Linked DNA regions of Homo sapiens: region 2 is linked to region 1. The links come from fine-mapping of genetic effects on gene expression. A gene starts in region 1. The other region holds a variant in brackets. All regions are shown on one strand. Distances are from middle to middle. Region 1 holds the start of NT5DC2 (5'-nucleotidase domain containing 2). Region 2 holds the start of STAB1 (stabilin 1).

What was found. PIP is the estimated chance that this variant, and not a neighbour inherited with it, causes the effect.
Region 2: its variant is fine-mapped to the expression of NT5DC2 in prefrontal cortex (BrainSeq, PIP 0.95).

Annotation. Positions count from the first base shown.
Region 1 is chr3:52,528,002-52,544,061 of GRCh38, reverse strand. It overlaps NT5DC2 (5'-nucleotidase domain containing 2), which reads left to right and starts at 10,205. Exons shown (of 14, transcript NM_001134231.2): 1 at 10,205-10,556; 2 at 14,728-14,912; 3 at 15,127-15,201; 4 at 15,370-15,425; 5 at 15,523-15,616; 6 at 15,751-15,879; 7 at 15,989-16,049. The coding sequence starts at 10,325. UQCC5 (ubiquinol-cytochrome c reductase complex assembly factor 5) reads right to left here and starts at 7,457. Exons shown (of 2, transcript NM_001124767.2): 1 at 7,156-7,457; 2 at 2,172-3,638. The coding sequence starts at 7,306. The coding sequence ends at 3,577. RefSeq lists enhancers at 6,605-7,138, 10,966-11,095 and silencers at 7,472-7,771, 9,806-10,305, 10,366-10,715, 10,746-10,835.
Region 2 is chr3:52,489,907-52,505,165 of GRCh38, reverse strand. It overlaps STAB1 (stabilin 1), which reads right to left and starts at 9,828. Exons shown (of 69, transcript NM_015136.3): 1 at 9,675-9,828; 2 at 3,864-4,000; 3 at 3,413-3,528; 4 at 3,075-3,160; 5 at 2,938-3,007; 6 at 2,439-2,534; 7 at 2,057-2,167; 8 at 1,626-1,822; 9 at 1,264-1,394; 10 at 1,011-1,138; 11 at 617-705; 12 at 290-427; 13 at 23-163. The coding sequence starts at 9,752. NISCH (nischarin) reads right to left here. Exons shown (of 21, transcript NM_007184.4): 18 at 14,935-15,091; 19 at 14,333-14,461; 20 at 13,653-13,814; 21 at 12,098-13,294. The coding sequence ends at 12,684. RefSeq lists enhancers at 162-667, 668-1,173. The variant C/G (reference allele first, on the strand shown) is at 6,891.

The sequences.
Region 1 (16,060 bases):
GGCCTCCCAAAGTGCTAGGATTACAGGCGTGAGCCACCGCGCCCAGCTAAGAGTATATTTCTTTAAAGAGAGTTAATTCAGTGTGAAAAATTTAAACACACACACAAAATGGAGATTAAATATCACATCAGGGATGTAGGTAAGACTTCCAAAATAGAACTGCTAGATGAACAAAAATAACTCATTTATTCACTACTTTTTTTCTTTCTTTTTTTGGGGGGGGCTGTAATACTGTTGTACTATTATTAGGTACTTTCTCTATAAATTCAGATAATAAAGTGACACTCCAAAGCCCATATTCTTTCCCCAACACCACAGTGGAGGTAGAGTTCTAGTAATAAATGCTAATCAGGTTTTCAGCATTCTGCAATAAGTATAGTTCTTGAAATTTATTAAAATTTATGCCCTGTAGTTTACAGTTGGTGGTACTGCAATTCTTTTCACGGCTTTTTTTTTTTTTTTTTTTGGAGACAGGGTCTCACTCCATTGCCCAGGTTAGAGTGCAGTGCTGGGATCATACTTACTGCAGTCTTGATCTGGCTCAGGTGATTCTCCCACCTCAGCCTCCCAAATAGCTGGGACTACAGGTGCACACCACCAGGCCTGGCTAATTTTTTGTACTTTTTGTAGAGACAGGGTTTCACCACGTTGCCCAGGCTAGTCTTGAACTCCTGGGCTCAAGTAATCCTCCTACCTCAGCCTCCCAAAGTGCTGGGATTATAGACATGAGCCACTACTCCTGGCGCCCTTAAATAGTTCAGTGTCTGATAAGTAGGATAGAGTCATTCCTAGTAGGAGAGTTAAAAATACTTTTGAGGAAAAATTAAAAGCTTATATACCTTAGCTGGGCACAGTAGCTCATGCCTGTAATCCCAACACTTTGGGAGGCTGAGGTGGGAGCACTGCTTGAGCCCAGGATTTTGAGACCAGCCTGGTCAACACAGCAAGACCCTGTGTCTACAAAAAATTTAAAAATTAGCCAAGCATGGTAGCTAGCTAGTCCCAGCTACCTGGGAGGCTGAGGCAGGAGGATCGCTTGAGCCCAAGAGTTCAAGGCTGCAGTGAACTATAATCATGCCACTGCACTCCAGCCTGGGTGACAGTGAAACTCATCTCAAAAAAAGCTTGCACCCTAACAAATGAGTTCTCACTCACAGCATCCAAACTAATGTGCTCTGAAAACCTATCTTCCATTGAATACAATAATTGCTTTGGTAGTCTACCTGCCTAAAAGTCAGAAGTTGTCCAATCTTTTTTTTTTTTTTTTGAGACGGAGTTTCACTCTTGTTGCCCAGGCTGGAGTGCAATGGCGCGATCTCGGCTCACCGCAACCTCCGCCTCCCAGGTTCAAGCGATTCTCCTGCTTCAGCCTCCTGAGTAGCTGGGATTATAGGTGCCTGCCACCACACCCGGCTAATTTTTTTTTTTTTTTTTTTTTTTTTGAGACGGAGTCTCGCTTTGTCGCCCAGGCTGGCGTGCAGTGGCGCGATCTCGGCTCTCTGCAAGCTCTGCCTCCCGGGTTCACGCCATTCTCCTGCCTCAGCCTCCCGAGTAGCTGGGACCACAGGTGCCCGCCACCACGCCTGGCTAATTTTTTGTATTTTTAGTAGAGACGGGGTTTCATCGTATTAGCCAGGATAGTCTCGATCTCCTGACCTCGTGATTTGCCCACCTCAGCCTCCCAAAGTGCTGGGATTACAGGCGTAAGCCACCATGCCCAGCCATACACCCAGCTAATTTTATATTTTTAGTAGAGACGGGCTTTTTCCGTGTTGGTCAGGCTGGTCTCGAACTCCTGACTTCAGGTGATCCACCTGCCTCGGCCACCCAAAGTGCTGAAAGTACAGGTGTGAGCCACTGCACCCAGCCTTCTTTTTTCTTTTAATAGAGACGGAGTGTATGTTGCCCAGGCTGGCCTTGAACTCCTTGCCTCAAGCAATCCTCCTGCCTGAGCCTCCCAAAGTGCTTGGATTACAGGCTTGAGCCACCAACCCTGGCCATCATTTTCAAAGTCTGTTGTCCTTAAATAAATTAACATTCTAATGGAAAGAAGAAAAAGAAATGGAGAGGAAAGCTCTAGAGAAGGCCAACACAAAATTCAGTCTAATGGTTCTCTGTGGGGTGGAAGCAGGGGGATGGGCCAGGGAATGAACCCACAGCAGACACAAAAGTTAGCCAATGGTTTTATTAGTGTTTACTATTATTCTTTGTAAAAGGTATGACGTATTTTCTATATGTATCAAATACTAAACTCCTAAAACAAGGTGGGTTAGGGCAAACATGGAGTATGGCCATATAATTGAGAATCATACTATAGTTTTTATACAGCAGTCAAGTCACTAAAAATGGTTTATCAGGTTAGGTTTACCAGGAATCCTAGATGACACAACTGGGCATGAGAATACGATGAACCACCGTCCTCTCCCTGATGGCAGAGGTCATTACTGGCCTTTCACATTCAAGCCATCTCCCAGCTGTGACTCTGGGCTTGCTGCACTGTAGTGTAGGTAGTGCTTTAAGGAGATGGGAGTAGTTAGTTAATGGTTCTTTACTGAATTGGTTCTAAGATAAGTGGACTAAAATTAGAAGAAAAATCTAGAAAAAATTAGGAGACATGTTTGTGGCAGAGATCATTAACTTGAGGATACCCTATGGCCTTAAGCATCAGCTTTATTCTCATGCAATAGTTAGAAACTATTCTGAAACTTAGTCTTTAGTATGTAGATTTTTTTTTGCTTGAAACGATGTTAGATGTGGCTATGCAAGCATGGAAAGGTATCTGCTTTTTCTACCAGGCTGATCCAAACTTACACTGGGTCAGATTGCCAAATCACTCAATAGACTGAGCCTCTGATTTAGCTCAAGTCTGGGATGCTTTATACTGTGTAGGTTCACTTTCTCATGGAAGGAGCAACTGTTTCTAGCAGCTGAATCGAACAGCAACATCTTCATCCTAGAGTAGTGTGAAACCTGTTGCCCACAGTCCTCATGAAGATCCAGCCCTTGCAGTTTAGGGGAGCCAAGCAAGGGAGGAGCATATTTCTGTTCACAAGAACACTAGCATGAGAAATGCGTAGTCAATCAAGAATTTCCACCACCCTAGCAAAAAGTTTATAGTCTAGTAGCTGGCAGAAATACAACCTGCATAATTATCCTGGTTTAAATGATCTGGCAATAGAGAATGTGTCCATAATTTAATTTGAATTCTGCAAAAAAGTAAATAAGGTTATAATTAGTTGCCTAAAAACAAAGATTGCCGAAAACAATTCGGGCTTCACTGAAAAGCATCCTGATTGATCCTTGAATTGTTTAAGAAATATTTCATGGACTAGATTCATCGAGTGAGTGTTTTAGGAGGAAATAATTTTCCCACAAGTGCTGTCCAGCAGTGACTTGGGAAGTACTCAAGCAGAGACAGAACTATAAAAATTCTTTGCAAAAACAGTTATTGGAATATTGTGCAGCTGATAAAGGACAAGCTGTGTCAGAACAAGAGATCTGAAAAGTATATTTTAAAAGGCACTGAAACCAATAGTAAAAATTCATATTGACTTTATTGACTGCTGAAGTTCAGTCTCATTCATCTTCCAGCCTTCTCTGATACTGTCTTTCTGAGGCTTTTCTACGGTAGACATCATCTGTATCAAACAAAAAGTTGCTCAGATGTTTAAGAAACATATTTAAAATTAAAACAATCTGAATAATTTAACCAATAGTCTAGGTCTGTCACCTACTTCTGAATCTTGGCATTAATATTTAACTCAATGCCAAAATAAACTTAAAACAAAACTTGAGTTAGATGAGGACTATGATAATGGAGTTCTAGACTTAAATAGGGTAAAAGTCAGTGTCTTGAAAGATAGAATCATGTCTTAGCACATCTCTTAGTGTTTTAAGATGTCCCTCACTTCCTTCTCCCCCATAATTTCTATTCTGTGCTCTGAAGTCATCCTTCTTAACTAAAACCTGGCTCCTCAAAGGCACTTCTTGCCTCTTGGCTCTCTGATGCTCCCTCTCCCATATCCAGAAACCTTCAGGTGGGGAGAGGAGATCAGTTTCCTTGTTCCAGCTGCTGCTTTGCCAGACCTTTGACTCGCCACCTTCATGTAAAGAATCTTCTTTCCAGGCCGGGCACAGTGGCTCACGCCTGTAATCCCAGCACTTTGGGAGGCCGAGGCAGGCGGATCACAAGGTCAGGAGTTTGAGACCAGCCTGGCCAGTATGGTGAAACCCCGTCACTACTAAAAATACAAAAATTAACCGGGTGTGGTGGCAGGCACCTGTAGTCCCAGCTACTCAGGAGGCTTAGGCAGGAGAGTCGCTTGAACCCAGGAGGCAGAGGCTGCAGTGAGCCAAGATCGTGCCACCACACTCCAGCCTGGGTGACAGACCAAGACTCTGTCTCAAAAAAAAAAAAAAAAAATCTTCTTCCTTCATGGCTCATGCCATTTGTCTGCCACCATCTTTCTTTGGCACCTGCTCTCCATCATGCCCCTTCAGTCACCAAAAGTGCTGGCCTCTGGCTCAGGTTCCTTGACCCTGTCCTGTGCCTTCTCCCCAGATACCACCATTACCCATGGGGATGAAGCTCCAGTACCCTTCACCTTCAACATCTTCCAGTCACTTGCAGGGCTCCTCTGAAGGATTTCTGTTCATACCACAACCCCCGTTACCTTTCCAGCCCTCCTGTCCTTGGACCTCACGTTTCTTCCCCAGGTCCTTGGCCCCGTCTTACCCGCTCAGCCGCTTCTTGTTCTCTCTCCTGGCAAATCAGCTAAAATTCCTTCATACTCTTGTCAATATCTTAACTTCCTGACACACCCTCAAAACCCCAACCACAGATTAATCCAACTTCCTCCCTTCCCCATGCTTCACCCTGCTTGCTGTGTCCTGAGGGGCCAACTGATGCCTCTAACTGGGTCCACTGAGGTGTCTGACAATCCTGTTTCCTCAGCCATCATCCTGACTCTTTTTCACCCACCCCCAAATGGCCATTTCCTCTCTTCCTTCACAGAGGAAAGTCATCATAAGGAACTCTTCCAGCTAACTTCCAAGGGCTTACTCCTGTCACCCAGCTCTGGTCCCACCCTCTCAAGGGTCCAGTATCTCCAGCCTCTCTCCACCCTCTCCTTCTAGATCATTATTTGCATATCCTGCAGTCTCTCCTAGAGGAAGGGGGGTTACCTCCCCTTCACAGAGCCAGATGTATTTAACCTCCTGTCTTCTGTGATAACAAATCCTCCTGGTTTCCCTCCTTGCCTTTCTGGCCATTCTCAGTTACCCTTAAAATGTTGGGATTTGGGCCAGGCGCAGTGGCTCACGCCTGTAATCCCAGCACTTTGGGAGGCCAAGGTGGGCAGATCACCTGAGGTCAGGAGTTCTAGACCAGCCTGACCAACATGGAGACACCCCATGTCTACTAAAAATACAAAATTAGCCGGGCGTGGTGGTGCATGCCTGTAATCCCAGCTACTCCAGAGGCTGAGGCAGGAGAATCACTTGAACTTGGGAGGCAGAGGTTGCGGTGAGCCAAGATCGCACCACTGCACTCCAGCCTGGGCAACAAGAGCGAAACTCAGTCTCAAAAAATAAATAAATTAAATTAAAATGTTGGGATTTGACTTCCATCATAATTTGCTTCTGAATGGTTCACAAATCCCAATTTCTGGCCCAGATTTGCCTCCTGAGCTTCAGCTCTGTATAACCATATCTACCTCGTCACGTCCCAGATGGTGCCCAGGATGGCCCTGCCTGTGTTCGGCACCTTCAGGAAATGCACTACCCCCTGCCCCAGGTGTCCCACCAGAAGCCTCCACTCCTCATCTCCTGAGTCCACTTAATCACCATGCCCTGTCAGTACTACCTCTGGGCTGTCTTTTACTTCCATCCCTTCTTGGTATCCTTTCTGCCCCAACCTAGACCAGGCCACTGTCTCAACTCTGGACAGCCATACAGCGTAACTGTTCCTACCAATCTGTCCACAAGGAGCCATTCTCCACATGTTAAAGCCTCTCCCTAAAATGACTCAATCCTTGGGATCCATTCTTGGTTCTCCAGTCCCTTTGCCACCCTGCCCAGGCACCCTTCTAGCCATCCCCACTTTGTTGATCTGCTTCAATCCCTCAAACACACAGCATACTCTCACACAAGTGCTCCTACCACTGCCATGGAGATGCTTTCAATTCCACACACCTTCCCCTCATCTGACTGACACCTACTCAGTCTTCAGGTCCTACTTTACTTGGTAGCTGCTTCCGGAAGCCTTCCCTGCACCATCTAGTCCAGTTGAGGCGCCCACCCGAGAGTCCTATGTTCCTCCCACTTCCTTCTCACAGCACTGATCACTTTGTATGCTAATTGTCTTTATCATCTTCTTTCCCATTAGAGCTCTTCTGGGGTAAGGGACACCTCTGCCTTGTTCATTATAGCCCCTCAAGAATGCTCATTAAGTATCAATGAATGGATGAACAGAAGGACTAAGGATCTTTAGGAATCACTAATGTAACAATTCTTTAAAATGTGGGTTGGCAAGTCACAAGTGATAGCGTTTCAGGAGAGGGGCAAAGCAGAAAGGGCCGAGGGGTTGGGGAAGTCCTCCTGAAAGGAACTGGCCTGTCCAGAGTTAATGCTCAGTAATGCAGTGCCAGGCGTTACCACTATCTTTACAGTGCTGATCATCTGGACCCAGACCAAAGACCTGGTGCCAATGACTGTCCTGTAAAGGTAGTGGTAATTAGCAAAGCCAGGCAGATCAGCTCCCTCCAGAGTTTGGACAGAAGAATCCAAAGAGAAATGGCTAGTTAGCAGGAGTTTCCCTGACCCCTCATATCCACCCCCTTCTACGATTGTTGTGAGCAAGTCTGTTCCTTAAGCCCAAACGATGTCACCGGCAGGGGTGAAGGGCAGGCATGAGAGGGCTGGAAGAAGCACGTGATCTCGCCTGTAAGTGCAGGGAAGGTCACAAGGCTGGACGCCAATGTGCCCGGCCTACAGGAGAGCCAGGCCGCCCTGACTGCCAAGCGAATGGAACTGCACTCGCCCAGCGCTCTGAGTGGAATGCGCGGTCTGCAATCTGAGAATACTCCCCAGAAAAACGGATCCCTACCGCCTCGTGCCTTCCTGAAAGGAAACAGAGACTGCTACCCCCTCACTTACAGAAGGTCTCCTGGCCCACGCGCACTTTAATCATGATCCACTCCATCGTTCCTCCCAGGACAAAAAAGAAGGGCAGGAACCGGTAGATGCCAAATCGCTGCTTCCCGGGCACCCGCTGCAGAATCCGTCTCACCTGGGCCCTGGTGAACATGCTCGACCGAGGTCGTGGAGAGGGATATGACGGAACTAAGCACTGGATCGCCCGGACGCAGCCGAGACCGCCCCGCCCGTTCTCGCCGTGTACCGCGACCTGGGAGACTAGCGAGCGCCGTCCTCCGCCACTGTCTGGTAGGCGCACGAGTGCCGGAACTGGGCGCCGACCTTCTAAAGCGAGGCGGATCCGCCAATCAGACTGCAGCGGGGGCGTGCAGCTCCGCCAATCAGAGCACGGCAGGGCGCGCGTGCTCCCTGAAGCCGAGCAGGGCCTCGAAGGAGCTGGCGCAGGCGCCTCAGCTCTGGAGGTGGGACGGCCCAAAAGGGAAGGACAGCCCACGTGGCGCCGGCCCGGCCCCGCCCCCTGCCTCCCCAGTGCAGGTCTGAGCTCGCAGTTGGCAGCCGCGCCCCCTACTCTGCCACCGCCATTTTTATTCCTAATACCCAGATAGAAGTGATGACCCTCTCTGATGGACTATGTACAGCACCACATTCCAAAATGCAATTATGCAATGCCTTGCGTTTATTTCGGAGACGTGATTGGTGCCTAGACTTCTAAAGTAACAGAATTTGATATGGAGTGTTGAAAGCTGAACTTTATCAATTATCACAGCAAAAATCTAAGTAAGCGCCCCGTGAGAACCCTAAAATTAATAAAAGCTATCTTGTATGGGGCACTTACAGTTCCACAGGCACTTGTAGGCGCTTTATTCACAATAATCGCAGAAGAGCAGTATAAAGAGCATGCACTCTGTTACCAAACCACATCCCTGCTCTACAGGTGCTCCCTTAGCCCATCTGTGCCTCAATTCCCTAAGCCGTAAAACGGAGGCCTTGTTCTGACGCTGTGATAATTTAGTGCGGTAATAGGAATGATGCACTGAACACAACCCTGGAGCATAGTAACTGATTAATATTAGTTAGAATATTCATTATGATGATAATGATTGGCAGAGCCCTCGCTCTTCACATGTATTCCCAAACATGGTTTTTGTTTGTTTCTTGAGACAGGACCTCGCTCTGTCATCCAGGCTGAAGTGCAGTGGCGCAATCTCGGCTCACTGCAACCCCCTCCTCCCCGGCTCAAGCCATCCTCCCACCACTACAGGCGTGCACCACCACGCCCGGCTAATTTTTTAATTTTTTGTAGAGATGGGGGTCCCACTATATTGGCCAGGCTAGTCTCAAACTCCTGGGCTCAAGAGATCCTCCTGCCTTGGCCTCCCAAAGTGCTGTGATTACAGGCGTGAGCCACCGCGCCGAGTCTGAACGTGTATTGTTTATATGTAGTCTCTTAACTGACAGTTTAAGAGACTATGCCAGGTAGAAGCAGGGCTCTGACTTAAGAGACTTCACTTGTAATTGCGTCTTCTCATGCTGCTGTGCTTGCTGAAGATAACTGAAAGGGGCTGTCACCCCATTACCTAGGACTAAAGTAAAAACTGCAGGAACAGCTTTGAGAAAGGAGACAACTATTAGACAATCTAAGGAAGGTAAATGAAAGCTTAGAACCAATGAGACGATTTGGTGATATGGACACAAAATATACAAAAGCAGACTGGAGAGAGCAAGCAGGGCCCCAGAAAGGGTCATAGGGCCCGCAGTGAGCAGCCTGAGCTGCCGCCTGTACAACCGGCTTTGGAGGGCCAGCCCGGAAGCCTCTTTCTCCTCCGGGTAGACTCCGCCCAAGCATGCACACACACAGGCTTGATGCTCGCTCCCGTTTCTACAGGAGGTTTTGACGGCTGGATGCTGCAGGGCATCCCCTCGCCTGGAGGAGGTTCACTTGTGGCCAGGTTCCCAGCACACCCACTTGCTCACTGGGGCCCTGGGGACACCGCCACACTCGAGCCCATCCTACGGCCTCAATCCTTACCAGTCCCCAGGCCATGGACTGCCACACTGTAGGTCTTCAATCAAGGTTCAGTGGAGTTTCGAATGTACACACACCCTGAAAGACAGCGCGGCCACCTCAGAAAACAACGCGCGCCCAGCTGGCTCCCCTCCGACAGGGCCCACGGCTACTGGGTCGGCCTCCTCCGGACCCTGAGCACAGCCTGGTATGCGTGCGGGCTCGGAATACGGATCTGAGCAGAAGAAATGCGAGTGGAGAGCGGTTCTGCGCAGGAAAGAGGAATTTTGTTGGAAAGCCTGTCGACGTTGCTAGAAAAGACCACAGCATCTCACGAGGGGCGTGCGCCGGGAAACCGGGAGTTGACGGGTCAGTGCGGCCAGTTGCCGAGGTCCGAACCAAGCGGGCGCAGTGACCGTGGCCCACAACCCTGCAGCGCACGGCCCAGTCACCTGGTTAGCGGACGTCGGCTGCCCTGCAGGCCCCTCGGCCTCCCCCAGCGTGGGCCTGGCACCGGGAAGCGCGGGAAGGGCTCTTTATTTGTTAGACCAGTGAGTGGACTGGCCCGGGCTCTGGTCAGTGGGCAGTCAGTCCGAGCCCAGAGACCGGGGACCAGGACCCCGGGAAAGGAGAGCACCAGGACTAGGGGGAGGAGCGGAGGATCTGGGGTCAGAAGCATCCAGAGGCGCAGGGTAGGGCGGGCGGACCCGGGAGCGGAGAGGGCGGCAGAGGACCCGGGGGCCCGGGGGGTACCCGTCGCGCTCCGGCTGTCTCCTCTCGGCGCCTCGGCCGTCCGGAGCCTCTCAGGGACGGCCGCTCTTAGGCCCGCTGACTTCCAGGGCTGGGGCCAGGGAAAGGCGCCGCCATCGCCGGCGTGACGGCCGAAGGGGGGCGCAGAGTCCTCCCGGACCGCGCCGGAGACTGGCTGGGGGAGGGGGCTGGGGAGCCCTCCCCGCCCCGCCCCGCCCCGCCGGGTCCGGGGCCTCCCGCCCCCCGGGCCGAGGGGCGCGCCCATTGGCAGGCCGGGCTCCGCGCGCCGCACCCATTGGCCGGCCGCCGTGAGGAGCACGAGGCCACCGTGGCGGGCGCGCAGTCGGAGGGCGGCGGGCGGCGGGCGGCGGGCTGGCCGAGGGCAGCGCGGGCGGCGGGCGGCGCGCGGTGGGCATGGCGGGTGCGGGGCTGCGGGCGGCCGCTCGGCGCTGGCTGCTGTGCGGAGGCCACGGCGGGCCGCGAGCCGCCTCGTCCTCGCCCTCCTGCCCTGGGTGCGGCCCCCCGGGTCCCGGCGCCCACTGCCCCGGCGTCCCGCGCTCCGCGCCCGCCCAGGCACCCACCAGCGGCGCCGACCTCAGCGCGCACCTATGGGCTCGCTACCAGGACATGCGGAGACTGGTGCACGGTGGGTGAGCCGGGGCGGGACGTGCGCCGGGGTGTCTTCCGCGTGGACTGATGGACGGACCGAGCCCCAGGGTGCCGCTCCTCCGGGGAAACACCCAGTGGGGCTCGCCAGGGCCCCGGAGCGCAAGGGCCGGGCGGCTTTTCGCGAGAAGCTCCGGCCGTTCATCCCGGGGGCCTCTGGGGCGCCCCGACGCCCGGGGGCGGGCGGGAGGTTTGTTCCCCGGCTCGGTCTGCAGGAGCTCGGGGCTCCTCGAGCGGCTGCCGGAGTGCTGGGCCCCCGCCGACTTCCTTCGGGGTCCCGCCTGCCGTGAAGCCGCGGTGGAAACGCCCCCAACCCCTTGTTCTCGGCCAACCCTTAGTTGGGGCGGGAGAGTGCTGTGGACAAAGCCAGCGAGCGGCGCCGGGCGGAACGGGCTCCTAGGGACGGCCGGACCAAAGGGGACACCGGTTGGACTTCCCAGACACACCTCGATGTCGCCCTGGAGGTCCGGCCCCCTCTCAGCCCGGGCAGCGAAGGCTGGGAGAAGCCAAGTCACCCCCGCCCCCTGGAGCCCAGACTAGGGCTGCAAAGGGCACTTAACCTCCCTGTCCCTGCTCTCTCCCTCTGAGAAATGGCGTGAGGAGGCTGAGGCCCCTTCTTGGAGGGGGCCGGCTGGGGCGCACTAGTGAGGCCCCAGAGCTGAGAGTGCTGGACATCTGCCTGCTTGTCTCCGTGGGTCTAGTGGGGCCCTGCTTCTGCAGCAGACAGATATGGTTTGGGTCGTGACCCTATCACTGACCAGTTGGGTGGTCCCCCAGCAAGTCTCACCCTCTCTCAAGCATGAAACGCAGTCCTGGGGCCTCTCTGTCCCAGGGTTGGGTGATGACTGGAACCAGGCCAAGCAGGGCAGGAGAGCTTCCGGAGGAACCCCCAGGGGTGACGTGGCTTTTGTTGTCTGATAAAACAAAGTAGCCCTGTCTGGAAGATTCTAACTGGCTAGACAGGGGTTTTCACTCCGGCTTTGTGGGGTGGCGGAGAATCACTTCTTGACCAGTAAAGGCAGGATGGTAAAGGCCCCTGAGGAATGGTCATTTTGAAGCCTTGGGCATCTGTCCACCCTCGAGGTCCCAGGTTGAGTTTGTGTCTGTGGAGGGGCGGCCCAGCGTTATTTAAGAAGTCTTTGCTCTGGGCCCGGAGAAGACCCTCAGAGTATCCTGAGAAGCCTGCCTTGGAGGTTTCAGGGAGGACTACGGGGATCTACTGGACATTGTCCTCCTGGGCCTGCCTGCATCTTTGGAGCCTCACAGCCCTCTAAGCTCCTCTTGTCATACAAGGAGCAAAGTCATTCCCACCAAGATCCCATGGTGAGCACCAGCAGGAGCCAGCTTCACACCTCTGGGCGCCGAGGTCCGCTTTGGGCTAATGCCCACGGGCTGAGAGCAGTGCAACAGGTCCCTCAGTCCCCCAGCCCCCACCCACCTGGCCTCAGTGTGGTGACATTGGGAGGCTAGGCTGAGAGGCAGAGTGATTAATGCAGGTGGGGTGACTTGAATGGTGATCTCAACCCCGGTGCCTGTTACTGGGTGGTTTGGAGCAAGTGACTTCACCTCCCTGAGCCCCAGTTTCTTCCTCCGGACGATGGGGGAATAAGTGGGACTGCCTCACAGGATGGGAGTGAGGATTGAACAAGACAAGCCTCTAAGGCATCCACAAGTGTCACGGCTGCTAGGGAGCAGTTGGCCCTGGGACCTGGCACCATGGGCAGGTGTGGGAGCTAGGGCTGAGGAGAAAGGAGGGCAATTGCTGGACATGCTGAGTGGGACACACCCTCAGCTGCCCCACCCCCACCCCCCACCCACACCACCTATGGAAGGGAACAGGCTTCTGTCGCCCCAGAGCCAAGGTTCTTCTAGTCTAGAAATCAGGCCAGGCCACCAGGCCCTGTGGCTGTTTCCACATCCTGCTTTGTTCCTGGGAGGACTGTCTGCCCCTGGGCCCCTGGGAACATCCTTAGGGGCAGAGGTGAAGGCCTGGACCTAACCAGGACTCTGTGCCAGCAAGGGGCTGCACTGCCGAGCAGACCCTCCCAGGTCTTCTGCACCAAGAGTCACAGTCACAGTTGGTATCCGGGAACTCAGGGCCATGGGAAGGGCAAGGCCCAGGGTCCTAGTGACACACCAGAACCCTGGGCCTTGAGGGGTGGCTCAGAAGCAGCTCCCTAGAGCGTTGCAGTCAACTGTCTCACTTGCATCCAAGTGAAGACTCCTGTCTACACCCACAGATCTTCGGAGCAGCCGCTCTGTGCTGGCCTGGGGAACCAGCCACACCTGATCCCCCACCCACACCCTGAACTTGGCTCCAAAGGAAAGGGGTGGGAATGGAGCCCTGTGTCCCCAGAGTGCCTCTGAGGCAAGTGCTCTGGGCACGGAGCACATCAGCGAGATGTCTGCCTCTTGAGTGCAGCAGCTGCCAGGCACACTGTGGGGCTTCCCTGGCCCTCTGGCCTGGCAGCTCCTGCTTTGTCATCGGCACTGGGGTTGTGGCTGAGACAGGGATCCCCTGGAGTCTTAGAGCTGGGGCCCCTGCAAGGCAGGGGTACTAGATGTACCCTGTACATCTAGTCCTGCCTGCTCCCTTCTCCCTGCAGCCCCTGCTTCTGGAGGGACACTGGGAAATTGGGGACAGGATGCTCATAGGCTCAGGAAACATATCACCCATTTAATCCTGCATATGTGCAGGTGCAGAGTGAGATTGCTGCACAGAGCAGCACCTTCCATATGACAGTCTTAGTAATTCTGTAGGTTGGTACAATTTTTTTTTTCTTTTTAAAAATGTTTTCACAGAGACAGGGTATCGCTATATGGCTTAGACCAGTCTTGAACTACTGGGTTTCAAGCAATCCTCTCGCCTCAGCCTCCTGAGTAGCAGGGACTGTAGGTGTGTGCCACCATGCCCCACTTGGTACAATTTTTTGTACCCTTTTAGAAACTAGGAAACAGGCCCAAGAGGTGAGGTGACATTCCTGAAGTCATAGCCATGAGAGGGAGGGCCTGGTCTTGTCTGGCTGACCTCATTGCATGTGGCCTTCCTAGCACATCTCCTTCCCTTTCCTTTCCCTTCCACTTTCTCCATTGTACACATAGGGAAACCAGGGCAGGTAACATGGGGCCTCTCAGCCCCATCTGCCTCCTTGGGACCCCAGAGCCCATGCCACACAGTGCTCTGCTCAGCACCCTGCTGTGGGCCTCAAAGCCAACTGCAGCCTCCTGGGAGCAGCCAGGGACTTGGGGTGGCCACGACCACATCCCCAGAAGGAGCAACCTGGATAATGGCCCAGAACCTGACATCACGTCCTGACTGTCGTAATTAGCAATGTTCCCTGGCTAGAGCCAGCAAATGTCATTATATGGGCTTGCGGGCAGCTGAAATCTGATTAGAGGGGCCTCACTCTCCCTGGGCTGTGGGAAGTGCACAGAGCTGGCAGCCCGATCGGCAGAGGGGCTCCCCCTCCCACTAATGTTCCTGAGCCCCAGTCCCAGCTCTGGGCAAGGTAGAAAAGTCAGCATCCATGGCCTCAACCCCCTAGTCTGGCCATACAGAGCCAGCCCCTCTGGGTTGGAGTCCTCAGTGCCCACATGGTATCCTCACACATAATCCCAGGGAGGCTGAGAGATGAGGCCAGGGGGCAGGGCAGGGCAGCTGAGAGGAGCAGAGGAGGCGCTGAATTGTGGGGGGCCAGACAGTGGTGTTCCTGCACGGGTTTTGAGCAAGTGGGAGGCTTTGCTTTGTAGAGCATCCCAAAAGCAGCTGTTCTGGGGCTAGGCGGTGAGGAGTTGAGTGACTGCTGCCAGGGTTCTAGCATGGCCTTGTGTCTGATGGGGCTTAGTGGTGAGGGCCTGGAGTAGTCACGGGCTCAGTATACCTGGTGGGCTATAGGAGATAGTGTAATGTAGGCAGGTGTAACCATGAGGAGGAGCTCCAGCCAGGGGCTCTGCCTTACCCTAACTGCGTGACCCTGGGCAAGTGACTTCTCTCTGGGCCTGTTTGACCATCTCCAGCACTGGAATAAGAGGTGCCATTGTGGGGCGTTTCTGAGGCTCACAGGGCTAGGTCCCCACAGAGTGCTCAGGAGCCATAGCTGCTGCAGGGATCATCATCCCCATCACTGCCTCCCTGCATCTCCTTCCTCTAGACCTCCTGCCCCCCGAGGTCTGCAGTCTCCTGAACCCAGCAGCCATCTACGCCAACAACGAGATCAGCCTGCGTGACGTTGAGGTCTACGGCTTTGACTACGACTACACCCTGGCCCAGTATGCAGACGCACTGCACCCCGAGATCTTCAGTACCGCCCGTGACATCCTGATCGAGCACTACAAGGTGAGACGGGGGTCCTTGCCACCAACAAACCCAGGGCTTGGAGGCTGGCCAGACCCACCTTGGCCTAAGCTCAGGGCTGAGTCGTGGGGCTCCCCTGGCCCTCTTGCCTGGCAGCTGCCCTGGGCAGGTGGCTGGATTGACCCCCTGGGGTGGCCACCCAGCCAGCAGGTCTGGCAGGGCTATTGGCTTAGGCCTGGCCCCTTTCCCCCGGCAGTACCCAGAAGGGATTCGGAAGTATGACTACAACCCCAGCTTTGCCATCCGTGGCCTCCACTATGACATTCAGAAGGTGAGTGGCTGGACCTGTATAGGGGCTCCCTCCTTGGCCTCCTCTTGGTATGGTCATTACCCCTCCGTCCCATCCAGCTGGGGTTCTGGCATGGGCTGAAAGAGGCTGGCTTGGGGCCACGGTGAAACTGCCTCCTCACCATCCGTCCTGCCTCCCTGGCGCCCCCAGAGCCTTCTGATGAAGATTGACGCCTTCCACTACGTGCAGCTGGGGACAGCCTACAGGTCAGTCGGCTCTGCCCCAACCCCACCCCCGCCCCACCCTACACTGCTGTTCTGGCTCAGGACTACCTTGGACTGATGGTATCTTGGGCCTGCTCAGGGGCCTCCAGCCTGTGCCAGACGAGGAGGTGATTGAGCTGTATGGGGGTACCCAGCACATCCCACTATACCAGATGAGTGGCTTCTATGGCAAGGTACTCCATACCCCAGCAGCCAGCCTGCCCCATGGACATGTGCCCATGTCCCAAGGCAGATTTGGGGCCCTCGTCTCCAGCACTGAAGGGGTTGGGGTCCCAAAGGGTGTCTGAGACAATGGCCCCCTCCCCAGGGTCCCTCCATTAAGCAGTTCATGGACATCTTCTCGCTACCGGAGATGGCTCTGCTGTCCTGTGTGGTGGACTACTTTCTGGGCCACAGCCTGGAGTTTGACCAAGCACATCTCTACAAGGACGTGACGGTGAGGATGCTGGGCCTGCCCTCGGATGGCAGGAAAGACTAAGTCCAGCCACAGTGGGACAGCCCCACCTGGGCCCTGCTGTACCCTCATTGTCCTCCACTGCCCCCAGGACGCCATCCGAGACGTGCATGTGAAGGGCCTCATGTACCAGTGGATCGAGCAGGACATGGGTAAGTGTGGA
Region 2 (15,259 bases), 38 kb after region 1:
GGAGGGGAGGATGCTGGCTCACCTTGGGATCCCCAGGGGTCCCAGAGGGGGCCTGCCACCGCAGGCCAGTGACCACGTGGAAGACGCCATTAGCTGCTATGTTGTTGGCCTTGTAGATGTTGAACGTCTGCTGGGGCTGGTCTTTGTACTTGTAGGAGTATTTCTGGTGAGACACAAGAGGTCTGGCCAGATCCCATATGCCAGCCCCCTGTCCGGAGGCTCCCTCCCACCTGCACACCCTTGCCAGGCTGTGACTCCTCTTGTCCCCAGGCTGAGGCTCCTCCCTCACCGTGAATTGGTTAAAGGTGACGGTGATCTCCTGCCCGGCCAGCGTCCACCACCTTCGTGTTTGTTGGGTCCTTGTGTCCTCCAGGATGTGCTGCCCTGCGATGATGTGCTGTCTACAGAGCTGCTGGGCAAGGGATGCCTGCAGACGCAAGGCGGGGAGCAAAGTGAGCCGGGGGGCCAGTCCTCTTCACACCACCTCTACCCAGCAATGGAGGGGACAGGATGCATCCCAGGCCCTGATGCCTTCCAGGTGGCCCTGAAGACTGGGGATGCATCCAGGGGAGGAGGTGAGGGCCAGTGGCCAGCTCCACCATGGGGAGGGGCTTACATTCATGGTCCTGGAGGAGAAGGAGGAGACGGATGGCACCAGCACGGTGAAAGGGCCCGCTGTGGTAAGGATTTCCCGGCAGCCCTGGTCTGGGGGGCAGGGTGAGGGAGCATCAGAAGGGAGCTGGGGAGACTCTGGGGATCTCAGAAGATGTTCGGGCATCAGACCTGGTGTGGGGGAGTTGGGGTGGGGGTATTCTCCCTAGATTTAGGGTAGATGGGGGCCTTGAGGTTGGAGAGCAGCTCCCACCCCCTGCATGCACCCCCCACAGCCACCTGTTTGTTCCCACAGCCCTGGGCAGAGAAACTGGAATCTGCAGAGGCAGCTCCTCCCTCCCTGCCAACTGTGCTGGGGGTGAGGGGTCGGGTCGTGGGCAAGCAGTGGGGTCACGCACCCATCATGGCCACGGCGACCCTCAGCTGCAGGAACACCCGGCCTGTCTGCGTGGCCTTCTGCACCTCGTGGAGCAGGTGTCCGTAGCAGGCACGCCCATCCCCCACCTCGCTTTCCCTGCACACACAGCTGGGCTCCCAGGGAGAGCCAGTCAGGGCGGAGGCTGAGGCCCCCCCCACCGCACCCCCCACGCCTTCCCGCAGAGGGCACGCTTGCCCAACCCACTGTCTCTGCTCCCAGGCACCTGTGCTCACCTGGTCTTCCCATCAGCGGTCACCTGGCAAGTGGCAGACCGGTCGCAGGAGAAGGGGGAGCAGAAGGCGAAGCAGCCCGCAGAAGCGTTGCTGTTGATGCTGACCAGGCCTGGCCGGCAGGTGCAGAAGGCCTGGCCCCCGACAGGGCAGGAGGGGAACACCACGTCCAACCCCAAGAACCACTGGTGTCTGCCCTACCCATAGAGCCCTGCTCAGCCCCTCCCTGAAGAGGACCCTTATCCTCTCCCCACTTTACAAGTGGGGAAACTGAGGCTACCAGAAGGCCTGTGACTTGCCCAGGGTCCCATAGCCAGTGTTTGGGTGCACTGTGGGGACAGTTCCGGCCTGGGACCCTGGCTCACCTGGCCCGGCTTCTGGTACACACACAAAGTAGAGTTGCTGGGGCAGCCACCAAGGTTGTCAGTGCATGGGTCCTTGGGCAGACACACCATCCCATCGCCATGGTAGTTCTCAGGGCAGTGACACTGAGCCTGCCCCTTGGGGCTCACCGAGCACTGGGCCAGCAGTGAGCAGGGTGATGGCCAGCAGGGGTTGGGGGCTGCCAGGGCAGAGAGAGAGCCCAAGTGAGCCAAGCACCCAGGAGCCCTGTCTCCGCCACAGCTTTCACCAGGAAGGCCGGGGCCAGCAGGTTGACCTAGGCCTTGAGGATAGGCTCCCCTTAGGAATGGCTCTCCCTCCTTGTGAATTACATTGCACTTGCTGGGTTAAAGGATGCTCTCCCAGCCCCCGCCCGCCCTGAGCTGAAGTCCCTGGCCTCTGAGTCCAGGCTCACCTCGGCATTCACTGCCCTGCTGTGTGTAGCCGGGCAGGCACCTGCAGCTGGGAGCCTCTGCGGAGCACTGGGTGTTCTGGGGACAGCGCAGCTCCTGGCAGACGGGCAGCTCTGCGCAGAGTGGAGAGAGCACTGATGAGCCCAAGCCCAGGCTGGGGAGGAACACAGGGGCAAAGGGGCCTTGCCTGTTCTGTGTGACTTGGAGCAGGGCCCTGACCTTGCTGGGCCTCTGGACAGTGGAGGTCTCAGATGACACCCCTTCCCCAACTAGGCTCCAGGCGGAGGTCCTGCTGAGGCTCAGGCCCCATCCTCACCCAGTCGGCCTCTTTTGCTCTGGCCACAGGGACCTGCTGCCCTAGGCTATCCCAGTGGCGCTGCTCACCTTGATCACAGTGGGGGCCAGTGTATCCAGCAAAGCACAGGCAGCTTCCATCCCCACGTGGCCCATGGTTGCACACTCCGTGCACACAGCTGCACACTGGGAGGGACACACAGAGACAGATGGGGCCCCAGCCTCTCCCAGGCACACACTGGGACATCGGGTCCCTGCTCTCTGTATTTTTAGAACTCAGCTCGGGCAGGTACAACCTTAAGAGTACAGAGCTGTGATGCGGGACCACAGGGGTGGTGGGAGACCACAGAAGGCACTGGCCCGGCCTGGGGCTCACAGAGGGCTTCCTGGAGAAGGCCTCTCAGGGGAGTAGCATGTGCAAAGGGCTGGAGGTGTGATAAAACAAAGCACATGTTCCTGAAAGGGATGTGCAAATCTGAGGGGCTGGGACAGAGGCTGAAGGGACAGGTGGGAGCTGGTTGTAGGTACTGCATCTGCGTGGGCCCCCAGGTGGACGCTGGCCGTGCCCTCTTGCCTTTTAAGCACTCACCCGATTGGCAGTCAGGCCCGAACCGGTTGGGGTCTTGGCACTCCTGGCAGGCTGAGCCGCGGAAGTTTTCCTGGTGGTGGATGCACCAAGTCAGCGTGGCCCCTCTGAGCCTCCACCCCACCTTGCCCAGCCCTTACCTGGCACACACAGGTCCCATTCCTGTCCATGCCATCCAAGCAGGTCCCGTGGCCATTGCATGGGGTCTCAGCGCCCCCAGGGCATTCTGTGGACCCCCACAGTACTCAGCTCTGTGCCCAGAACCCTCCGCTTACCCTGACCCCAGCAGCTCTGGCCAACCCCAGACTCGGCCCCTCCCCCAAGGAAGCAAGAGCAAGGGGGCCGAGCCTTGGAGGCGCTCGGTGAGTATTAATTAAACAAACAAGTTGAAGGGGAATGCAGGTGGCTCCTGCAGAGGGCTTGCCCAGAGCTGGGGCTGGGTGGGAGGCGCAAGGCGGGGTCCCCCTTTCTCCCATACCATGGCACCGGGAACCCCAGTAGCCAGGGCAGCAGGCCTTCTGCACCACTTGCTTCCGGCACTTCCGTCTGCAGCCGCTCATGGACACCATAGAGCCCCCCAGCTGTACTTCGTAGCTGGGGGCAGAGGGTGGGCAGGGTGATGGAAAAGGCTCCCTTGCACAGCCCCCACCCAGCCTCCCCACATTGGCTTCCGGGGCTCCCACCCACCTCCCTGCTCTGCCTGGCCCAGAGCTGAGCACAGGGCCTAGCACATAGCAGGTGCCCCATAAACCCCTCCTGCCCCTCGCCTTTACCCCTTCCTCCCCGCCTATCTCCACCACCCAGGTGGGGCCACAGGGGCATGGATAAGTGAGTGCTTCTCCTCATTTTGTGGGCCTGTCAGGCTCCCCGAGTCCCTGCCACCCCACAGGATGCTCCTGGACACAGGCAAGGACAGGGGTGGCCCGCACCGGCAGTCCTGGGTTATCTGATCCGGGAGCTCCCGCAGCCAGCCTGAGGGACACGTCTGCTTCTTGATGGCCGCGCACGAGGTGCAGGGTACATGAGTGACAAACGTGGTTTTCACATCACAGCCTTTGAACAGCACCTGGGGCCACAGGCAGGGTGTGGTCAGGGGCCTGGACCCCACGCCCAGTCCTGACCCTGTCCTCAGTGCTGCAAGGGCTCACACCCCTCCAGCTGCCACTTCCCATCTGCTCAGGGGTCAGAGTAAGCAGAGGGTTCTGGGCACAGAGCTGAGTTCTTTGGGGGTCCACAGAATGCCCTGGGGGCGCTCAGTGGGAATGCAGTGCAGATGGGGAAGGCCCTGTGAAACCTGTCTGTTACAAGTTGTTAATGTCACATCGAGTCCTTATGTGCCCGGCCCAGAAGGCTCTGAGTCCACACCCTCTGACACTAGAGAATCTAGCCACGTTGCTCCCCCAAGCCCATTTCAGGTGAGAAAACTGAAGCCCAGGACATGGCCGCTACCCAATCTCATCCATGAACAGGGTGTGAACCAGGGACTAAACCCAGATTCCCAGCCTAGTGCTCACTTTTGCCTTTTGTTTAAAGATAAAGAAACAATAAATGACAGAGCTGATGCTGTCTTGGGAGGACACGGCGACTCCATCCTCAACTCATGGGCACAGGCACGATGCCGGCTCCAGCCATGCACCGTGGGGCTGGACCTCCAGCCACCACTCTGCTCTGAGCATTTTCCCACGTTGCTACCAAATGACCCTCTCTAACCAAGCGCAAGGGCTTTCTCCGCTGCCCAGGAATCAGAGACTAAGGGCCCTGGCCCTGAGAGGCTGGGCTCACGTGAGCAGCTGTGTGCAGGGACTCTGGTCTGCAAGTGTTTGGGCTGGGCAGTCACAGGAGACAACGGGCCATGCCAGCCTCTGAGGAAACCCAGGGCATCCTGGCTGGGGCCCCAGGTGGTTTCCTGAGGGAGGTGGTCATTGACTTGGGACCTGAAGGATGCATGAGAATTGGTCAAGGACAGTGCTCCTGGCCTAGGGGACAGCAGAAGCAAAGGCCGGGAGTGGAAAGAAGTAAAAACAAATGTGTGACAAGGCAGGCAGTGGCCCGAGGGGAGGCTGGAGAGGGGCTGGCAGCTGGGGTGCAGGAGCTCCGTAAACCTGGGTGAGGCAGAGTCCAGGGCAGCCCCATGACTCAGTTTATGGTTTTTTGTCTTTGAGAAAGGGTCTCGCTGTGTCGCCCTGGCTGGAGTGCAGTGGTGTGACCCTAGCTCACTGTAATCTTGAACTCCTGGGCTCAGGCGATCCTCCTGCCTCAGCCTCCCGAGTAGCTGGGACTACAGGCATGTGCCACTGTGCCTGGCCAGTTTTTTTTTTTTTTTTTTTTTTTTTGAGATGGAGTCTCGCTCTGTCGCCCAGGCTGGAGTGCAGTGGCGGGATCTCGGCTCACTGCAAGCTCCGCCTCCCGGGTTCACGCCATTCTCCTGCCTCAGCCTCCCAAGTAGCTGGGACTACAGGCGCCCGCCACTACGCCCGGCTAATTTTTTGTATTTTTAGTAGAGACGGGGTTTCACCGTTTTAGCGGGGTTGGTCTCGATCTCCTGACCTCGTGATCCGCCCGCCTCGGCCTCCCAAAGTGCTGGGATTACAGGCGTGAGCCACCGCGCCCGGCCGGCCAGTTTGTTTTAAATTGGCCCTCTGGCTGCTGCATGGAGAATACAGTCGCAGGGGCAGGTGTGGTGGGAAAGAGGCCATCATTACCTGAAGGTGGCCTGGGCCAAGGCAGGGACAGTGGAAATGGATTGGGAGATATTTGAGAGGGCTTGGGGTGGTGAGATGAATTGGGAGAAGGTCTCAGCAACTGGGTGGGGCGTGGAAGATGTGAGGAGTCCAGCCTGCCACCACGGCATGGGCACAAGGATGCTGACAAAAGCCCCAGGCCTGGAGTCCCATTCACTGGCCTGCCATAGCTCCTGGAAGTCCACCAGCCTTCTACGGCAACAAAGTCCCAGCAACCTTCAGCACTGAACCAGGAGGCGTGAAGCTAAACTCCCAGTTCTAGTGGGAGGAAGGGGCATAGGGAAGGGGCATAGGTTGGAGGGGAGGTGTTTGGGAGGCTTTGGGCATGGCCCAGAGAAGTGGAGATGTTCTCATCTTGAAAAATGCTGACCACACTGTGGTCCAAAGGGAGTGACCCCAGAACATCCCTTTCCTGGAATAATTTACAGATGTGTGGCTTCTCAAAGCAAGAGAAAAGGAGAAATGGTGCCCCTGACACTTTCTTATGGCAAATACCAGGGCCCCAGAGCCTCTGTGCTACCGTGATTTGGCCTTTTCCGCTCATGCCTCTGCGGTCTGCAAACAGGGAAGTTGCTCAGAGCAGCCTGTGTTGAACGGCGGAGCTGGGATGTTGTGGTCTCGTTCCCCATCCTGAGGCTCGCCTTTGCTGAGCCAGGGAGAGACTAGGAAATTGGGTAACTTGAGGGCTGAGCAGCTGCTGGCTCAGGGTAGAGGCTTGGCAGGAGGTGGGCTCCCCTCAAAGCCACCTGGCCAGCTGGGCAAAGCTGCCAGCGCGGTCACCATTCTGGCTGTGGACCAGCTCTTGGAGGAATGGTGGTCAGCTCTGGATAAGGGCTCAGGCTGAGTAAGACTGTGCTGGTCGCACTCTGAGACAGTCAGGGCTAGATGGAGCGATGGGTGAGTTAGGGCCCAGAAGGAAGCGGGAGCTTTGGGGCCTGGTGTGGACACTCACTCACAGGACCTGGGTGTTTGTAAACGTGTGTGAAATGCTGATGAATGGTAAGCCTGCTGCCACATCAGTGCTTCTCCGAGACCACAGCCGAGGGGCCCTGCCTCCGCCCCATGGCCTGGAAGGAGCATCGGCGGTCTGAGCCCACATCTTGCCGTTGGTCCAGCTGGGTGGAGTGAGGCTGGATCACGGCCTGAGTGCTGAGTCAGATTCCCTCCTTCCTGGGGGCACCTCGGGACTGAGCCAGAGCGGGTGCTGTCTCCCCC[C/G]CAACCCCACACCCCCCGCAGACCTGATTTTGCAATGTCTGCTTCCCACAGAGCTGCTGCTGGGGGAAGTTGAGGAGACACGAAGTGTGAAGTCTTTGGTGAGAAGGTGGATGAAATTCTCCCAAGCTGGGACCTGGTTCATGGGGACTTTTTAAGGCTGAGAGCCCAGAATCTAAACCCTGTCAGAGAGGAAGGAACCCCAAACTGCTTCCCCCTACCTTTGGTCAGATCAGGGAGGGTGCAGGGCTGGGTTCTGGACCGTGCTCCTCTCCCGCCACAGGCTCCACTGCACACACCTAGCCACGTGCCCTCGGTGAAAAGCTGCTGAATGGGCAAGTGCTAAGGGCCTTCCAGGAAAGCCTTCCTGCCTCGCTGCCCAAACCCATCTTCACTCCAGTCCTGTTGCTGCCCTTACTGAACAGGTTACCCGGGATATCCTTTCCCCTCAGAGCTTCCACTCCTAATATAGTTGTTCCTTGGTGTCTATGGGGGACTGGTTCCAGGACCCTCCTCAGATACCAAAATCTGTGGATGCTCAAGTCCCTGGTATAAAATGGAATCGAGGCTGGGAGTGGTGGCTCACATCTGTAATCCCAGCACTTTGGGAGGCCGAAGAGGGTAGATCACCTGACATCAGGAGTTCGAGACCAGGCTGGCTAACATGGAGAAACCCTGTCTCTAATAAAAACACAAAAATTAGCCAAGTGTGGTGGTGTGCGCCTGTAGTCCCAGCTACTTGGGAGGCTGAGTCAGGAGAATCCCTTGAAGCTGGGAGGCAGAGGTTGCAGTGAGCTGAGATAGCGCCACTGTAATGCAGCCCGGACAACAGAGAGAGACACCATCTCAAAAAAAAAAAAAAAAAAAAAAAGGCATCGAATTCACATATAATCTATGCACATCCTCCCGTATACCTTAAGTCATCCTTAGACGACTTATAATACCGAATACAATGTAAATGCTATGTACATAGAAAAGTCTGAACATGGGGTTGGGCACGGTGGCTCACACCTGTAATCCCAGCACTTTGGGAGGCTGAGGCAGGTGGATTACCTGAGGTCAGGAGTTACAGACCAGCCTGGTCAACATGGTGAAACTAAAAATTCAAAAATTAGCTGGGTGTGGTGGCGGGCGCCTGTAATCCCAGTTCTCGGGAGGCTGAGGCAGGAGAATCGCTTGAACCTGGGAGGTGGAGATTTCACTGAGCCGAGATCACGCCACTGCCCTCCAGCCTGGGCTACAGAGCGAGACTCCACCTCAAAAGAAAAAAAGTCTGAACATGTTCAGTAGAGATGCCATTTTATTTCCTGAATATTTTCAATCCAGGGTTGGTTGAACCCAAGTACAGGGTGCACAGATACAGAGGGCCAACTGCACTTACAGTGGCTCTCGGCTATGCAGGGTGCTGGGATAGAGGCCACGTAGCTGTGTTAGAGTGGCCAGCACTGCTGCAGCCCCATCCACAAGGAGTGGTCAGAGCCATAGGTCTCTGACAAGGAAAAAACTCGAATCTGAGGCCCCTCACTGACCTCTGTCCTCACTGCCCAGAGCATGAGGAGGTGGCGGAGGCCTTTGAAATTCCCTTGCATGGTACACAGGGGGAAACTGAGTTAAGGGGAGGGCAGGAGCTTACCTGCAGGGCTCTCAGCACAGCCCTGGAACCCTTGGCTCTTCCCCCATCACTGTCGCCTTCTCAGCCTCATATCTTCCTGTCCCCAGCCCTGGCCTGGTCCTGAAGCTGGTGAGGCCCTTCTCCCTGCTGCCTCTCTGAGGGACCACAGGCATCCAAGAGAAAGCGCCTGATGGTGGCAGGGGGCCTAGGCCCCTGGCTGGACTGCCTGTGGGATCCTGGGCAAGTCCTCCCCGCTCTGGACTTTAGTCTGGCCATCTGTGCCATGGGGATAGTGGTTGCTGCTCCAGGAGGCAGACACGCTCAGCCTCACAGGAGAGAGACTACCCCCATCACCAGGGTGGGAGGCTCTTCCAGAAGCTCCCAGAGGCCCCTACCATGGGGCCTGAGCAGACCTGCAGCCAGGAGCCTGTCACAGGGACCTGACCGAGGGGCTGGCTGTGGCTGCATACCAGGACCCTGTCTGCTCGCCAGCACACACGGATGGCCATCACAGGCAGGGGTTTGGAGCATGGCTTTAGAGTGGGAATGGCCTGTCCCCATCATCCTAGGGCTTCGGGTTCCTCACGAGGAGGACAGGAGGAGTTGCCCCGAGGCTGTGAGGATTCAAGGGGACCTGCCCGGGGCTGTGGCTGCTCTGTGGCAGCTCTGAGGCTGAAGTGTGTCCTTGCCAGCTGCTCATAACCCCGGACACTAAGGGTGAGTGACTCATTCTGCTTCCCGGTACTCTTGGGGCTGGACACAGGCACACACATGTGCACACACTTGCCCCACGTGAATCTGTAGTCCTCGGGGGTTGGAGGTGATCACATCTTCAACCCCCAGGTGAGGGCCACATAAGACCTGGGCCTCCGTCTGGGCCAGAAGGGCAGGACAGGCCTGCCTCTGTACACTTCAGCTGCACGCTGGGGAGCCCCGGCCCCGCATAGTCAGAGGAGGGTGGGCTGACACACCCCTGAACCCTGGGTGGCTGGACGCAGACCTCAGACTGGGGAGGTGGGCACAATAGCCAGCCCCCAGGCCTGCTAAGAGGCCAGACAGGCGCCAGCTGCGGTTTCTCCCCAGGCCCCTGCCCCTCCATGTCAGTCCCTCCCTGTTCCCACCGCTGGCCGGCAGGGCCCAGACGCCGTGTGCCCCTGCGACTGGCTCACACTTACCTGCCCCCTGACGAAGCTGAAGCCTGCCAGGCAGAAGGCCAGGAGGCAGAGTGGGAGGAGGCCCCGGGGCCCCGCCATGGCTGGTGGGCACGCTGTCCAGGACAGAGTCGGGGCGTAGGGAATGAGCTCTAGGAGGCAGGCACAGCACAGGCAGGCGGGACGGGGCGGGCAGTGGCCTTAAAAGCAGCCCGGAGGCCCCGCCAGCTCACCCCCACAGGAACCCGCCAGGATTTCCTCCTGCATATCAGCAGCCTGCAGGCGGAAGGGAAGGTGCTGGCCACTGACCCCCCATGGGCGGCCTGAGCCCTGCTCGGGGCTTCCCGGCTGGGACCCTCCTGGCATCACAACCTGGAAGTCCAGGCCACCATGAGCCCCGGGACCTGGGCTCTATCAGAGGTTCTGAAGCAAATCCAAAGGCACACGTGAACGAGTCCCCCGCCTGCGAGCCCAGTGTGTTTCATTCAGAGGCTCCTGGGGTGCTGGTCGGCGGAAGGCAGGGCAGCCCCTGAATGGGTCTGTCTGTTCCTGCCTCCACCTTTCCAACTCCAGGGCGCTCATGGGGCTCTGACTCGCTACAGGCACCCTGCTAGCCCACCAGACCCACATCCCCTCACTAGCCCCAGCCACTCCTGAGCCGCTGGTCCTGCCCGCCAACCCCCATCCACCCTCCCTGCCTCCCTATCTGCCCTCCACTCAGCAGCCCATGCTCAGCCAGCTTGCTGCAGCACCTCCAAACCCCTCTCCAGCTGGCTGGTCTCTCTGAACTCTCCCCAGACAGGTCTGCTCCAGCCGCGCAGGCCTCTCTGCTCCTTCAGTGAGCTCTCCCGGCATGTGCTGCTACCCTAGATTGTCACACTCTGGCTCCTTCTCACAGGTGGTCTCAGGTCAAGGGCCACCACTTCAGAGCGCCTCCCTGGTCTCAGCCTGCAGGTGGCCCTGCACCTGGTTCACCTGGCAGCACCAGCCACCAGCTGACATTGGCTTGTTTCATTTGTCTCCCCTGGAACATTGGCTGTGGAAGAGTAGGGGCGCTGTCTGGCTGATTCGCACAGTGGATGCTCAATACACGTGTGCAGAAGGAATAAATGAATGGAGGTGGCTACTTTTATGATCCCTCTGTTACTGGTGGGGAAACTGAGGCTCAGAGGGGCTGGGTAGCTTGTCTGAGGTAATCAGTTTTCATATCCAATCCCAGGGCTACTGTCTGAAGCCACCACTGCCTGCACAGCCAGCACCCCCAAGAGGTGCAGTGGGCCCAGGCTGAGGGCCTCTGCGTGCCAGGGCTGCACGTGGTGGGCCTTGCCTCCAGTTGTCACTACCCCCAACTGCAGACGGCGTAACAGTTGGGGAGACAGGAGTGGGCCAGAGCCCGGTGGCCATCTGTAAATGCTTTGGTAAAGGCCAGGTTGGGGAAAGTTTCTCCTCCCCAGCACACCTCCACTCCCATCAGTTTGGAGGGGCCTTCAGGCAGGCCTGAGATCTGGCTGGGATGGGGGTTGCAAGGGGAAACCCTCCCCACATTCCCCACACCCACAGTCTTCCTGGGGGTGAAGGGTCCTCCAGGCAGGACCCCCACTCTGCTGGCACCAAGGGAAACGGGGGAACAGAAGCAGGCCTGGGACCCAGGCTGGCCACGCCACCCACCTCTCCACAGCCCTGCCTGGCCTGGCTGCCCCAAGGTCCTGGGGACTGAGGCTCCTGGCTGGGCCAGGATGAGTTATGTGGGGCTCATAGGCCCTGCTCTGGCAGCAGGAATGGGGTTGGGGAAGAGTGTGGCATGGGGTTGGCTACCAAAATCCCAGGTCCTACCTCAGCAGGCTCCCTGAAGCAACCCTCAGGGAGGGGCCCATGAGCCTCATGTTTCAGGGACATGAAGACAGACACAGATGGGTATGTGCCCCTCCCTCCACTGTCCACCACCTGGGTCCACCTCCCCACAGACCTCCCCTGCTGCCATTCAAGGGCCACCTTGGTGAGATGCCCCGGCCCCCACCAGCCACCTCAGACTCTGGGATCTCTCTGTCCTCCTCGCCCCTCCCCCACTCTCAACAGGGGTTGTGAAACAGGTGGGGTTGGGCCCAGGGGTGACTGACACATAAGACCTGCAGGACAGCCTGAAGAGGGTGGCATGCCCCGCACCCAGGCAGAGGGGCAGCGGCTGGTGTGTCAGGGGTGCCCTGAGGAGTTTCTTGTTTGCCCTGCGCTCATGGTTTAGCCACAGCCCAGCATGGCACTGTCCAGAGAGGCCATGGCCCTGTCATGCCTCCCATGTTCCAAGAAGCATCTGGCTCCTGGAGGGCTGCTCCTTCCTTTCCCCCAACCCCTCACCCTCCTGTCTCCAGGGCACCCTCCCTCCCCCATGTGACCACGCCCTGGACGGAAGCCCTGCTGGGATCCCAGTGACCCTTGGTTTAGAAGATGCAGACGGTGTCAAACTCTGCTTTATTGGAATAGAGAATACAGGCAGCAGGAATCACGCTTGGTGCTGGCAGCTCCAGGTCCCCTGCCCCCACGGGCTCTCCCACTTGTCTGGATCAGGGGAGACCTCCACTTTGAAGAACAATATGGGGTGGGAGCTTCCAATGTGCATTCTGCTACCAGCCTCAGGATTAGCAGCAAGATGCCAACAGCAACAGCAACAGCAACAGCAACAGCAACAGCAACAAAGGACTGGACTCGACACTTCAGGAAAGGACGTGTAGAAGAGAAAGTCAGACCCACAGTGTCACGTGTTAACAACGGTCCCACAACAGCAGACACGACACTGGTGTGCACGGCTGTACCACCTGTGGGAGGCTGACAGCACACCGACAGCCCTGAGGGGCCCGGCATTCTCACTCCCAACATGAGAAAGAATTAACACAACACACACACATGTTCACATTCTCTGCGAGGACAGTCAAATTAAGGTACCAAAGGGAGGATAAAACATTTTTAGAGAACACAAAAGCCTGCTGCCCTGCCCCAGTAGGCGTCAGGCTGGACACGACAGGCTGGCTGTGGCCTGGGCTAGCCGGTGAGCTCGACAGGCAGCTCACGGCCACACAGGGCCTCCCACTGGCGAGCCAACAGCGAGATGAGCTTCTCTCTGCTCTCAGCACTGGGGACAAACACCTGCCACTGGACTTCACGGCCCTGGCTGGCTCTAGCCGGGCCACCTGGCACCTCCCCAAAGTGGTCCAGGGTGACACTGCCCATGAGGTCATGACCTTGCACGTCATCGAAGACGAGGGTGAGGGCCTGCGGGTAGGTCTGGTAGCCCATGAGCACTCGGTCCAGGTCCCGGACGCGGCGGCCATCGTCCAGCCGGTACCTGTCTCTCTGCGGCGGCTCTTTGGCAAACTCGGGCAGTGGGTAGTGGACACAGTCCTCATCCAGGAGGAAGATCTCGGAGCTGGTGAGCAGGAGTGTCTTGGGGCGCAGGGGGCCCCTGCAGCACCCAGGGGGTGGCATGCCCACCTGGAAGGCCTGCACGTACAGCAGGATGCTGAGGGCTGGGGCCTTCTCTGGCTCAGCCATCTTTTGGGCCACAGTGAACGTCAGGTCCCCAATCTCCTCCTCACTGGGGTAGGTAAACTTGACGCGACTAGAGTGGATCAGCTCGTAGTTCTCCATCTTCCCTGCAGAGAGATGCCACCTGGGCTATAGCCTGGAACCGGCCCCTGGTGGGGCTGGGAGCACCAAGGGCCCCAAGCCAACCGAGAGACCCCGGCATGAGACAGGCAGGAGAGGATGCTCCAAGTGTGGGGCCCACAGGCCAGGAGCCCAAAGCAGGCACTGGAGATGTGTCTGCCAGATGGTTGAGGGACTGCTGGAGTGGAGACTCTGCCATCGAAAAGCCCCACATAAAACCCTGGCCAGCTAAGTGAGAAAAGAGAGACATAGAGGCAGAGAGGGTTCTGGGGCACAGAGAGCCACCCTGGGGCCCATGACGTCTGTCCAGGCAGCCTGTCTGCAGCCTGAGCTAGACAGGGGTACCTGTGGTCTTGTTCCCAAACTCGGAGTAGAAGTCCTTGTCAACAGGCTCCGGCGAGGGCGTGCGTTCCAGAGAGGACAGCACGACCATGAGGTGCTGGAGGAAGCAGTGCGTCAGGTAGCTGTCCCGCGTCAAGCACGTGACCACCTGCATCGGGGTGGAACCTGCACGAGAAGGGGCTGGTCAGGGCCACAGGCCGGCGCTCCCCAGCCCTATCCCTGCCCCTTAGAGCCACCCCGAGTCCCTAGCAAGCCTCAGCCCAGAGGCCAGGGCCAGGAGGGCCCACACAGGAAAGAATCATGGGGCCCGGGAGGAGGCCATTCCTTCAGGCCGGAAGAGCTGAGGCATTTTTCTGGAAGGGGAGACAGAGACATTAGGCAAAGAGCTTAGCTTTCTCTCCTCAGGAAATGTGAGTCAGAAACATCCTGCCCGAGACCAGGGCCCACTCTGCTTCTGTCCGGGCCAGCGCTTGCCGCACACCCTACCTCCTGCTCTGAGCCCTGGAGCGTGAGTTCTGCTCTCTCAGCAGTTCCTGAAGCTGCTTCCTCCCACCCCGGTTAAGAAGTGGCTCTTGAGCACAGAGATAACTGTCTATGATAACCCACCCACGTACGGAAGGTGGAAGCCCACTGGTGATGCTGGCCTTCACCCGAAATAGGACAAAGCACAGAGGGTCACCCACCCGTCAGCCGGAAATGCTGGTCGAAAAGCCCCACATTGACTGACTGCAGGTCACTAAGCTTTAGCACGAAGCACTGGGAGATGTGGAAAGGGCTGTTGTTGTAGTCGGTGTTTTTCTGATGCCAGAAATCTGTGTGATGGAGAAAGGGACAGAGGGAGGCGGTGGCAGGCAAGCACAAGGTTCCTAGGTGTGCAGCACATCCAGCAGGAACAGGTCCTCTTGGCTGGCCTGGCTTCCACCCGTGCAAAGCCCCATAGGCAATGCCCTCTGGAGTCGGAGCCTCTTCCAGCTCAGGGGAGTCACCAGGTCGCTGGCTAGGGCTTCCTGTGCAGCCCCAGGGGCAAAGGCTGCCTAACCCCTTCTCATCACTGGCTGTTCCCAAGCAGTCACCAGGCCCTGGCTCAGTGCATTCTGCGTTCACATCTGGCCATGGACCCCTCCCTCATGACAGCTCCCTTCCTCAGACAAGGAACTCTCAGCCCACTGCAGCCAAGTCGCTGACTGCTGCCTGAAGCCACACAGCTGGCTCCAGAGAATGACCCCCCAGGCCTGCCCCAACCACACACTCCAAGCTCCTGAGCCCCAGCAGGCCCTGTGCCTACCCTGCAGTGGCTCTGAGAAGTAGCGGCGGAGGCCGTCGTGGAGCACAAAGTACACAGCCTTGGTGGAGAGCAGCACGCAGGCAGTCACCTCCAGCCCTGGGGTCTGGTAGAACACCACCGAGGACCACATGAGGTGCCTCAGCTCCTCGTTTTCAACCTGAAGACGGGGGGCCTCCTGTCAGCTCCACCACCCTAGCAACCTGCACATACCAGGGACATGCCCACAGCTTCCACAAGGAGACATGGGAAGCCCCTCTTGGCTCACCAATGAATCCGTATGCTTCAAGGCAGAGAGGAAGAGAGGGGTGGGAGATGGCTGTTGGTG